Linked DNA regions of Homo sapiens: region 2 is linked to region 1. Evidence: fine-mapped QTL for protein levels in blood plasma. A gene starts in region 1. The other region holds a variant in brackets. All regions are shown on one strand. Distances are from middle to middle.

Region 1 (5,379 bases):
ACAGTATGTGAATCTATAAATACCTCACAATAAAAAGTTGAATTTAAAAATAAAGGCCGGATGCAATGGCTCATGCCTGTAATCCCAACACTTTGGAAGGCTGAGGGTGGGCGATTGCCTGAGCCCAGGAGTTCCAGACCAGCCTGGGCAACATGGCAAAACCCTGTCTCTACAAAAATTTAAAAAATAAAATAAACCCATCCGGATAAGGTGGCTCATGCCTGTAGTCCTAGCATTCTGGGAGGCCAAGGGAGGACTGAGCCCAGAAGTTTGAGGCCAGCCTGGGCAATGTAGTAAGATCCCATTTCTACAAAAAATACAAAAATTATCTGGGTGTGGTGGCACGTGCCTGTGGTCCCAGCTACTCAGGAGGCTGAGGTGGAAGATCACCTTTAGCCCAGGAGTTGGAGGCTGCAGTGAGCTGTGATCACACCACTGCACTCCAGCCTGGGTGAGAGTAAGACCCTGTCTCTAAAAAAATTGATTAAAAAAAAAAAAACCCAATAGTAAGCAGATTTTAAAAGAAAAATAAAAGCCTGTGGGGGTGGGTTTTGGGGGCAATCAATGTGAAGGTAAATTTGAGGTCGCACCCAGTGCTGCAGCCGACTCTGCCTCCACACTTTGGCATCCTTGCTGTGTCCACCAGCAGAGAGGTGGTGGCTGGGCTGCCTCCACCTACCTTGTCCACACTTTCTCCTTCCTTCAGGGCTACGAATGGAAAATGGTAGGAAATCTTTAGTGCTTGATACACTGCTACATTCTGCCTGCCCTTATTTTTTTCTGGGCAGAATATTTAGTCCAGAGCAAGGTGAACCTGGTGAATGGCTGGGTTTTGTTACACTGCCCAAGAGGCTGAGGACTCCTCTCGAGCTGACAGCGCTGATTCGGCCTCCTGCTAATCTGTTTTATTGAGCAGAGCGAAGTGGACTGGTGAAAGAGGGTGGAATAATAGCAGGTGTCCCCCATCGGGTCTATTCTGTGTTCCTTCGTCTTTAAAGTAGCCTGTCCTGGGAGGTATCCTGAGGGTGGGTGCAGGTCTGCCTCCGTAGGAACAATCCCCACCATGCACGTCTCTCACGCCAAGCAGCTGATCTCACAAGAACACAATTACCCAGTTTTGCAAATGAGGAAACGAAAACTCCTCGTTTTGAAGGAAATGAGGAAATGGAGCAAAGCCACTGGAGACCCAGCCCCTAGGCTGGCGGGGAGCCCGAGCCTGTCCAACCCCAAACCCGGGCAGGAAGGACAGAGGTCGGGATGGAAGGCTGCCTCCTCAACTTACCCGCTGTGTGGCTTGGGGCGAGTTCCTTGCCCACTCTGTGGCCCGTGGCCTCGTGTGGGAAGCGGGACCATCACAGTGCCGGGCTCCGCGGGCTGCTAGGAGGACGCGCGGCGCACTGCGGGCCGGGAACGTGCTGCGCGCTGACACCGGGTCAGCTCCCTGTGATGGGACTTCCTTTCCAAAAACGTAGGCGTTTTCCCGGGTCGCAGTCGCAGTCGGGAGACTGAGGGTTAGGGCGCGGCCGCGGGGTCTCCTGGGCCGGGGCGCGGCCCACGTCTCAGGCCTCTGCGGCTCTGACCAGAAGCCGCTGCGCCTTTGGCCGCTTCCCACCCGTCCCGTCCCCGCAATCCCAGGCCCAGGGTTACAGCGGCTCAGCTCTCTTCCTCTCGCGAATCTGCACACTGCTTCAGTGGTCTGGACCCTGGCTGCATAGGCAGATCCCAAGAGGAACTTTTAAAACAAGGATCCTCTGACCCCACTCCCAAAGATTCCGGTTTCATTGCGTGGGTATCAGTATTGTTAAAAATGCCCTGGCCTCTCCTGCCTGACCAGGGTAGAGAGCCTGGGCTTCAGCTCCTCTCCCAGCAAGCTCCTGCAGGTCTGTGAGGAAGCCCCGCAGGAGGAGCAATAGCTTCAGGGCTGGGGAGATTCGTAAATTTGCCTCCAGATTGGAGACCCCATTTCATGTGAGGTCTCCACCCTTTTGGATGGAAGCTGGACATAGTTTAGTTGGTGGAGTTGCTTTGTTCTGTGGCCGGAGGCTGTCCAACCCTCCCCCAACCACTGTCTGGCAAGAATGGGTTGCAATTGCAATGGAAAAGAAGCTTCACAAGAGAAGGGCAGCATAGTTTTTACTTTCCATGAGCCGAAAGCAAAGAATGGAGCTGGAGGCATTTTGCTGTAGTTTCAGCCTTCCCAACAGTTTGCAGAAGAAGAGATGAGTGAGCCAGAGATGAAAGCTTCCTGAAGAACTTCAGTCCAACCTCTAGTTCAGAGGATATTATTAGCCATCATTTCAGCCAATGGCCAGAGAATGGGTTAAACATAGAAATTAAGGGTTACTCACGTTTGGCGGCATCAAGTGGCAATCTTGCAGCCAGGAGCAGAAATCCCAGGAAATAGTAGAGACATTCCATGCTGAATTCTCACGGACGCAGGCACTCAAGGTTTAACTCTGAATTCCTCTGGGCCCGTCCACCAAGAGCAACAGTGTTCTTCTGGCATCTGTGGTGCCTCCCTCTCTATTTTAATTAAATACAGGGCCTCGGGGAGGATCATGTGATGGTATTAAGCGGCACTGCCTGATCTGGTCTCTCAAGTTCAACCTCTTACAACTCATGTGCTTATGACTCACTCCTTCTTGGCATCTATTTATTCACTTTTCAGATGCACATTATTTCAATTTTGTGATTCCACATTTACTAGATTCAAGGAGTTTTTTTCCTATAGACTCTATTTCAATATTCATTTTTTTTTTTTGAGATGGAGTCTCACACTGTCTCCCAGGCTGGAGTGCAATGGCACGATCTCAGCTCACTGCAACTTCCACCTCCCAGGTTCAAGCCATTCTCCTGCCTCAGCCTCCTGAGTAGCTGGAATTACAGGTGCCCGCCACCATGCCCGGCTAATTTTTTGTATTTTTAGTAGAGGCAGGTTTCACTATGTTGGCCAGGCTGGTCTCGATCTCCTGACCTTGTGATCTGCCCGCCTCGGCTTCCCAAAGTGCTGGGATTACAGGCATGAGCCACCGCGCCTGGCTCAATATTCTTTACCAAATAAAATTTCAATCCTCCAGCCTCACTGATTATCGACTTACTGTGGTTCCTATACTGCATCAGGCACCCAGCTCACGTTTAGAGTTCACAGTTACGCACCCTTTCCTAAGATGTAGTTGTCCACCTGCTCCTGTGCTCGTGATTGCTTGTATATTTTTTTCCTCCAAGAGGAAGCAAAGATGGGGGAGGTGTCTTATCAATCATTTGAAATTGTGGAATACATAAGTGGATGATAACATGAATGTTGTGCCAGGATGTGCTGGAAACAGCTGCCCAGGCCTCTGGTAGCTGAGAAATTTACTCAAAAGCACATTTAGAATATCTGTGCAATTCCATATAACTTTTGTAATAACCTGCATAATTTTTGGTAACTGCTCTCAAAGCATTTATGTGTTGCATTACTCAGAGCCAATTGCATAAAACGTTCTGTGTATTTTTTCATATTATAGAAAGCAGGCATTAAATGTACAAACAAGTGTGTCTGTAAGATAAATTTATACAGTCAAATCATTCCTGGTTACAGAGTATGCAGAAAATGTGGCAACATGAAAACTTTACCATATGTGACCTTTCTCAAACTCACATTCACATGGCCATTTTCAGTGCAGTAGAAACCTTGGTTGCAGGTGAGGGTAAAACTTGGGGTATTGATTTATGGTTCAGTGTGTCAAGGAGGAATGGAAATAGCCTATGAAACTAAAATCCATACAGCAGGAGTGGCTGACTTCCATCCCTAAGGCGGCAAACAACTCTGTAGAGTGCCTTTTACAGCCTTTGCAGCAAATATGAAGGGGAAAACAACGAAAGGAACACATTATTCATGACTGAAACAATTTTCAAATATTGATGAATAAAGGAATAATGGAAATACTTATTAGTTTCATGTAATGTAAAGCGAATAATGTATATAGTTATTTGCTTTTTAAATTACTTAAAAACTTTTTTTTTTTTTTTTTTTAGAGACAGGCTCTCACTCTGTTGCCCAGGCCGGAGTGCAGTGGCATGATTATAGCTCATTGCAGCCTTGAACTCCTAGGCTCAAGTGATCCTCCCACCTCAGCCTTCCAAGTAGGTAGGACTACAGGCACACACCACCACACTCGGCTAATTTTTTATTTGCTTTTTATTTTTTGTAGAGACAAAAATCTCACTATGCTGCCCAGGCTGGTCTTGAACTCCTGGCCTCAAGTGATCTTCCCACCTCAGCTGCCTACAGCACTATTTGCTTTTTATGACAAACACATAACTTTTACAATTAAAAAAAAACACCTTTTCAATTTAAGGAAAAGCTACTATTAACATTTTTAAAGATATTTTTGTCCTTTGTTGCAGACACAGTTCTGGCTCATATTTCTAGCCAGATTAGCCACCCCGTCTCTAAATAAATTGGAAGTGTTAAATTCTTCTGTAACAAAACCTTCGTTTTGTTTAGGGAGACACAATGATCAAATCAACTTTTATGTCTTTTTTCCTTCCCTGCACCATCAAAGAGAAGAGGCACTGATAGGACAAGAGTCAAAATGTAGGCAGCTGGACAGAGGTGAATAAGAGAACAAGAGAAAGATCTTCATTCCAAAGAACTACAAGTTGGATAATCTGTTTCTTGATAATCAATGGTTGATAATATATAAAGTAGTTAACTCTATGTAGGACTCAGAGACAGGGCCATTTTGGGTAAAGAATATTCTCAAGCCTGTTTGTTTGTTTTGGAAAGATAAAATTATACTGTAAAGAAAGTTTGAAATATTTTGTTGAAATAATTTTTTGAGCTGGTGTACTGATGTGTACCTGAAGTCCCAGTGACTTCAGAGGCTGAAGCGGGAAGATTGCTTAAGCCCAGGAGTTTGAGTCCAGCCTGGGCAATGTAGTGAGACTTCATCTCTTAAGAAAGAAAGAAAGAAAAAGAAAGAAAAGAAAGAAAGAAGGAAGGAAAGAAAGAGAAAGAAAGGAAAGAAAGAAAGAGAAAGAAAGAAAGAAAGAAAGAAAGAAAGAAAGAAAGAAAGAAAGAAAGAAAAGACAAGAAAAGAAAAGAAAAGAAAAAAGAAAAGAAAGAAAAATTGTTCCGTTCAGATCCTAATTGCCAGGTCTGGTAAATATATTATATGGCTGGGGGGATGAAGGTTGCTAATCAACTCGCCTTAAGGCAATTGAGAAATGAAAAGGGAAACATCTCAATTATCTGGAATTACAGATACAATTACTCTGTTCGGAAATGATGTGGAGGAAAGCAAAGAATAGTCAACTTTTTTTTTTTTTTTTTTTTTTTTTTTTGAGGCGGAGTCTCGCTGTCGCCCAGGCTGGAGTGCAGTGGCGCGATCTCGG
Region 2 (5,379 bases), 120 kb before region 1:
CGCCCAGCCGTGGATGAACTTTTTTTTTTTAAAAAGGCTGAACATTTGAGGGTTTCACGTCCTAAATACATAACGGGGGAATTCTAGAAAGACATTTTCTATGAGGCTTTACTTTGCATTTATACCCCTTCCTCCCTCCCCTGTCGTTGGAATTTAAACTTACCTAAGCATAGAGAAATGTTTCCTTTCTGGTTTAAGATTTTATTTAGGTATGGGAACTTGTGAAAGTGTTGGAAATATAGAGTGGAAAGCTTTTTGTTTTTTTTCGTGGTTTTTTTTTTGGCCTTTAAGACTGTTTAAAAGAAGTATTTGTGGCTGACATAGAATGATTAGCAGTACTGAGAGGGGACAAGAATCTAGGAGACAAAAACAGGTGCATAAGTAGCTTATGTGACAGGTAACAGGAACACTGTCTTATCTTCCTGTTTAATGCAGAATTAAGCAAAATGCGGCCGGACACTGTGGCTCACACTTATAATCCCAGCATTTGGGAAGGCTGAGGCAGGCAGATCACTTGAGCTCAGGAATTCGGGACTAGCCTGGCCAACATGGCAAAACTTTGTCTCTACTATAATACAAAAAGTAGCCAGGCGTGGTGGCACATGCATGTAATCCCAGCTACTCAGGAAGCTGAGGCACAAGAATGGCTTGAGCCTGGGAGGCGGAGGTTGCAGTGAGCCAAGATCATGTCACTGCACTCCAGTAAGACTCTGTCTTTAAAAAAAAAAAAAAAAAAAAAGCAAAATGTGAGAACTTACCAAGTGTAAGTTGTATTTATTCTTTGAGAGTTCAGTGGGCTGGAGTGGCATGATACCATTTGATAGGCCTTGATATAAAAGAGCATATTCAAATAATGGCCTGCCTTAAGATTGATGGGATTACTATAGTACAGTTCAAGTCATTTGGGGGTTGGAAATCCTTTTGAGATTTGGGAATCTTATTAGGCTATTGACAGCCCTTTCCCTATTCTGTTGTCATTACTTCCAAGCCTTGTACATGAAACTTTGAGTAAGACATCAAAGATCCACTGAAATCCATCTATGGGGCTATGTAAAATCTCCTAAGTTGTGTTGTTAAATTTTTTCCACAGCTAGGTACCAAGATTGATTCTGCACCTATTTCTTCTAAGGATTAGAGGGGTTTTTTTGCTTGTGGTTTTTTTTTTTTTTTCTTTTTTACTTTGTTTTAAAGCCATGCTTGTTGAAGTATTATTCACAGACAATAAAACTCACCATTTAAAAAAAGTGCACAGGATTGTAGTTTCTAGTTATCTTTCTAAAGACTTTACATGGCCAGGTGTGGTGGCTCACACCTGTAATCCCATCACTATGGGAGACCAAGGTGGGTGGATCACTTGAGGTCAGGAGTTCGAGACCAGCCTGGGCAACATGGTGAAACCCCGTCTCTACTAAAAATACGAAAATTAGCTGGGTGTAGTGGTGTGTGCCTGTAATCCCAGCTACTTGGGAGGCTGAGGCAGGAGAATCGCTTGAACCTGGGAGGCAGACGTTGCAGTGAGCCAAGATTGCACCATTGTACTCCAGCCTGGGTGATAGAGTGAGACTCTGTCTAAAAAAAAAAAAAGATTTACACGGAAGTTGACAACCAATAGCATTTATCTATTCTTAGGAATAGAATATTTAACTATACAGGCAATTTTGTTTTGAATATATGCAGTGAAAATTTTAATGTATATTTCTACTTGTGTGTGTGTGTGGTTTTATAACTTTAACATATTTGATGATCGGTGGCTAGTTCTCATCCTCATTGACTGACTATAGATTTTTGAAAGTGGTAACAGGTACATAGGTAATCAAAATATGGAGCTCGTTTGGTGAATCTTCATTTTCATTACATTTCCTGGACAGCTGTTCACAGATTGTGGTATAGGACGTTCCTTATTCCTTTGGCCCAGACAACTTTGTTGAGCCTCATGTCAGTGAACACATCTCCTTCATAACAAATTTCCAGATCTCTTTGAATGCCCAGGGGCAGTCTTCTTGAAGCCCACTCCATGGATACCCTTGTAAATGATGATGCATTCTCAGGTCATCACCTTGTTGGTGGCAGAGCGGCCCTTCTTGTCACAACCCTTCTTCGTAGAAGCCATTCTACCAGGCCTAACTTGGAAAGGAAGAGCATGAAAGGATTGTCCCCCGATTTTTTTTAAGTTAAAAAATTTACCTGTATCATTTGTATGTGTGTGTATATAAATATTTATCACTTTGGCACTGTAGCTTTTGAAGAACATTTGTTGCCTTGACATTATTGTAGGTTTAGTCGGTATTGTTTATAGATCACAGGTGTTTAACTTTTGTAGTGTTATCTCTAAGAGTAATAAAAGTTAAGGTGGCATAAGGTAATCTGTGTGGAGACTAATATACTTAATTACTGAACAAATTGCTTTTCAGAAGAATTAAGAAGGATGTTTATTTAATTAAACTTATTAAATTGGCAATTACTTCCTACTCCCTGAACCCCTCCTCTACCCCTGCCTCCATCCAAGTTGCTATAAAGCTCTACTATCAGTGTGGCTTTCATTTAAAAACTAAATTTTATTTTGAGACAGAATCTTGCTCTTTTGCCCAGGCTGGAGTGCAGTGGTGCAATCTCTGCTCACTGCCACCTC[C/G]ACCTCCCAGGTTCAAGCAATTCTCCTGCCTCAGCCTCCTGGGTAGCTGGGATTACAGGCATGCGCCACCACTGCAGGCTAATGTTTGTATGTTTAGTAGGTATGGGGTTTCACCATGTTGGCCAGGCTGGTCTCAAACTCCTGACCTCTAGTGATCCACCTGCCTCGGCCTCCCAAAGTGCTGGATTACAGGAGTGAGCCACCGTGTCTGGTCCTAAAAGCTATATTTTAAATAACATATTAAACTGTCAACTACCTCCTAGTCCCTGAACCCCTCCGCTACCCCCACCTCCATCCAAGTTGCTGTAAAGCTCTATTATTATTAGTGTGGCTTTCATTTAAAAGCTAAATTTTAATGGTAGACATACTTTTCCTCCTGACTTCATTACTGAAGGTGGAATGAATTTGTTAGAATTCTGACTTAAGTATGAAGTAAAACATTTTTCGTATTGAAAAAATTTCATTTTTGTTTAGAAAATAAGTAGGTTGCCCACTGCACCGCCACCCCCCACCCCCCAACCTCCCGCTTTTTTTTTTTTTTTTTTTTTTTTGACACAAAGTCTCGCTCTGTTTCCCAGGCTGGAATGCAGTGGCGTGCTCTCAGCTCACTGCAATCTCCACCTCCCAGGTTCAAGTAATTCTCTTGCCTCGGCCTCCCAAGTAGCTGGTATTACAGGCACCCGCCACCACTCCCAGCTAATTTTGTTGTTTTTTCTTTTTTTTTTTAGATGGAGTCTTGCTCTGTTGCCCAGGCTAGACTGCAGTGGCACGATCTCAGCCCACTGCAACCTCCGCCTCCTGGGTTCAAGCAGTTCTCCTGCCTCAGCCTCCTGAGTAGCTGGGACTACAAGCGCGCACCACCGTGCCCAACTAATTTTTCTATTTTTAGTAGAGACGGGGCTTCACCATGTTGATGAGGCTGCTCTCGATCTCCTCACCTCGTGATCCACCTGCCTCGGCCTCCCAAAGTGCTGGGATTACAGGCGTGAGCCACCGCGCCCTGCGAATATTTTTGTATTTTTAATAGAGACAAGGTTTTGCCATGTTGGCCAGGCTGGTCTCGAACTCCTGACCTCAGGTGATACACCCGCCATGGCTTCCCAAAGTGCTGGGATTACAGGCATGAGCCACTGTGCCCGGCCACCCTTGTTTTTAATTTAAGGAATTATGTGTTGTATATTTTATCTTTGAATGGCAACGTGAGAGGTTTCTTAATTTTTGGCGTTTATAAAATGTGTCTGTGATCAACATCACATGGCAAATTCACCTATAAAACAGACAAGCACTTTTACAGAGTACTCTTCCTATAAGATATACCAGGATTTCCTCCTATGAAGTATTCACTTCACTCATGAAATATTTGAATGTCTTTTTGTGATTTAAGAATAGCTATAATCAGAGACAAAGATTAATGTGCTTCTGTGTGTATACCTCATGCAAAAGAAATTTACCAAATAAAAATTAAATTTACCTCATGCAAAGGAAATTTACCAAATAAAAATAAAGGGCATTTCACTCATAAATAGGTATTAACCTTATTTAAAAGAAAAACCAGGCCAGGTGCTGGGTCACGCCTGTAATCTCAGCACTTGGGGAGGCCCAGCTGGGATGATCCCTTGAATCTGGGAGTTTGAGACCAGCCTGGGCAACATACCGAGACCCTCATCTCTACGAAAAACTTAAAAATTAGCCAGGTGTGGTGGCATGCACCTGTAGTGCCAGCTACTCAGAAAGCTGGGGTGGGAGGGTTGCTTGAGCCCAGTGGTTGAGGCTACAGTGATCTATGGTCGTGCCACTGCACTCCAGCATAGGTGACAGTGAGACCCTGTCCCAAAACTAAAAACAGAAGCTCACCCCAGACAAACCTTGTTATATGTTTCAAACTGGAAACAGTAGACAAAAGCCTAAAATATACCACATAAGATAAACCTTCCTTTAGAAGAAATTGCTTAAGTTTAGTAGTAAATTACCATAAAATTTGTTTTCTATTTCCTGGCACCTGAAAAACATTTTCAAGGAACCGCCCTTTTAACTTTGCAGTTAGGCTAGGGCTAAGTGGCTCACGTCTGTAATCCTGGCACTTTGGGAGGCCAGGGCAGGAGGATCCCTTGAGCTCAGGAGTTTGAGACCAGCCTGGGCAACGTAGTAAGACCTCATCTCTACAAAAAATTTTAAAAATTAGCTGAGGGTGGCGGCGTGCACCTGTAGTGCCAGCTGCTTGGATGGCTGAGGTGAGAAGATCACTTAAACTCAGAAGGTTGAGGCTGCAGTGAGCTGTGATCATGCCACTGCACTCCAGCCTGGGTGACATAGCAAGACCCTGTCTCATAAATAAATAAATAAATAAATAAGAAAATTTGTAGTTAAACTGATGAGTAAGTAATTTGCTATAATTTACAGAAACTTACTTTGTTTTGCTATAGCTCTTAGAAGCTAAGGACACCTGAATTTGGTTTATATTGATGAGACGTACATCTGCAGTTGATATTATAATAAACTTACAGTTACTGTTCTAACAGCCTCTCCATTTGGATAACATGCATAGTATAATAATACAGCTACAGGAAAGATGGTAAAAACATAGACAGCTTCAAATTGTACATTTCCCAACCCCGTGTAGACTTAGAAATGTTTGCTTCATTTCACACTTTTGCTGTCTATGTATTTATGTTGGGCTTTAAATTCCACTCCAGGTAGAGTATGCACTGTGCTGTCTTCATTTTTCTAGCCTGCCTTGAGCAATCTGTTTT

Alleles and levels. Positions count from the first base shown, and alleles are read on the strand shown. Strength reflects both the effect of a copy and how common the allele is.
With allele C in place of G in region 2, the plasma level of the protein whose gene starts at base 2,501 in region 1 is higher (weak association).

What was found. A credible set is the group of variants that fine-mapping cannot tell apart. PIP is the posterior inclusion probability: the model's chance that the variant is causal. Protein levels are from antibody-based Olink assays in UK Biobank. Linkage for the fine-mapping came from a reference panel and not from the study's own genotypes, which makes the PIPs less certain.
Region 2: its variant is the best candidate, but not a certain one, in a credible set for the plasma level of the GPNMB protein (UK Biobank, PIP 0.56).

Annotation. Positions count from the first base shown.
Region 1 is chr7:23,243,897-23,249,275 of GRCh38, reverse strand. GPNMB (glycoprotein nmb) reads right to left here and starts at 2,501. Exons shown (of 11, transcript NM_002510.3): 1 at 2,349-2,501. The coding sequence starts at 2,418. RefSeq lists an enhancer at 930-1,049.
Region 2 is chr7:23,362,349-23,367,727 of GRCh38, reverse strand. All of the region lies in intron 3 of IGF2BP3 (insulin like growth factor 2 mRNA binding protein 3), which reads left to right. Among named protein-coding and RNA genes, the nearest start is that of SNORD65C, 31 kb to the left of the region's middle. The variant C/G (reference allele first, on the strand shown) is at 2,630.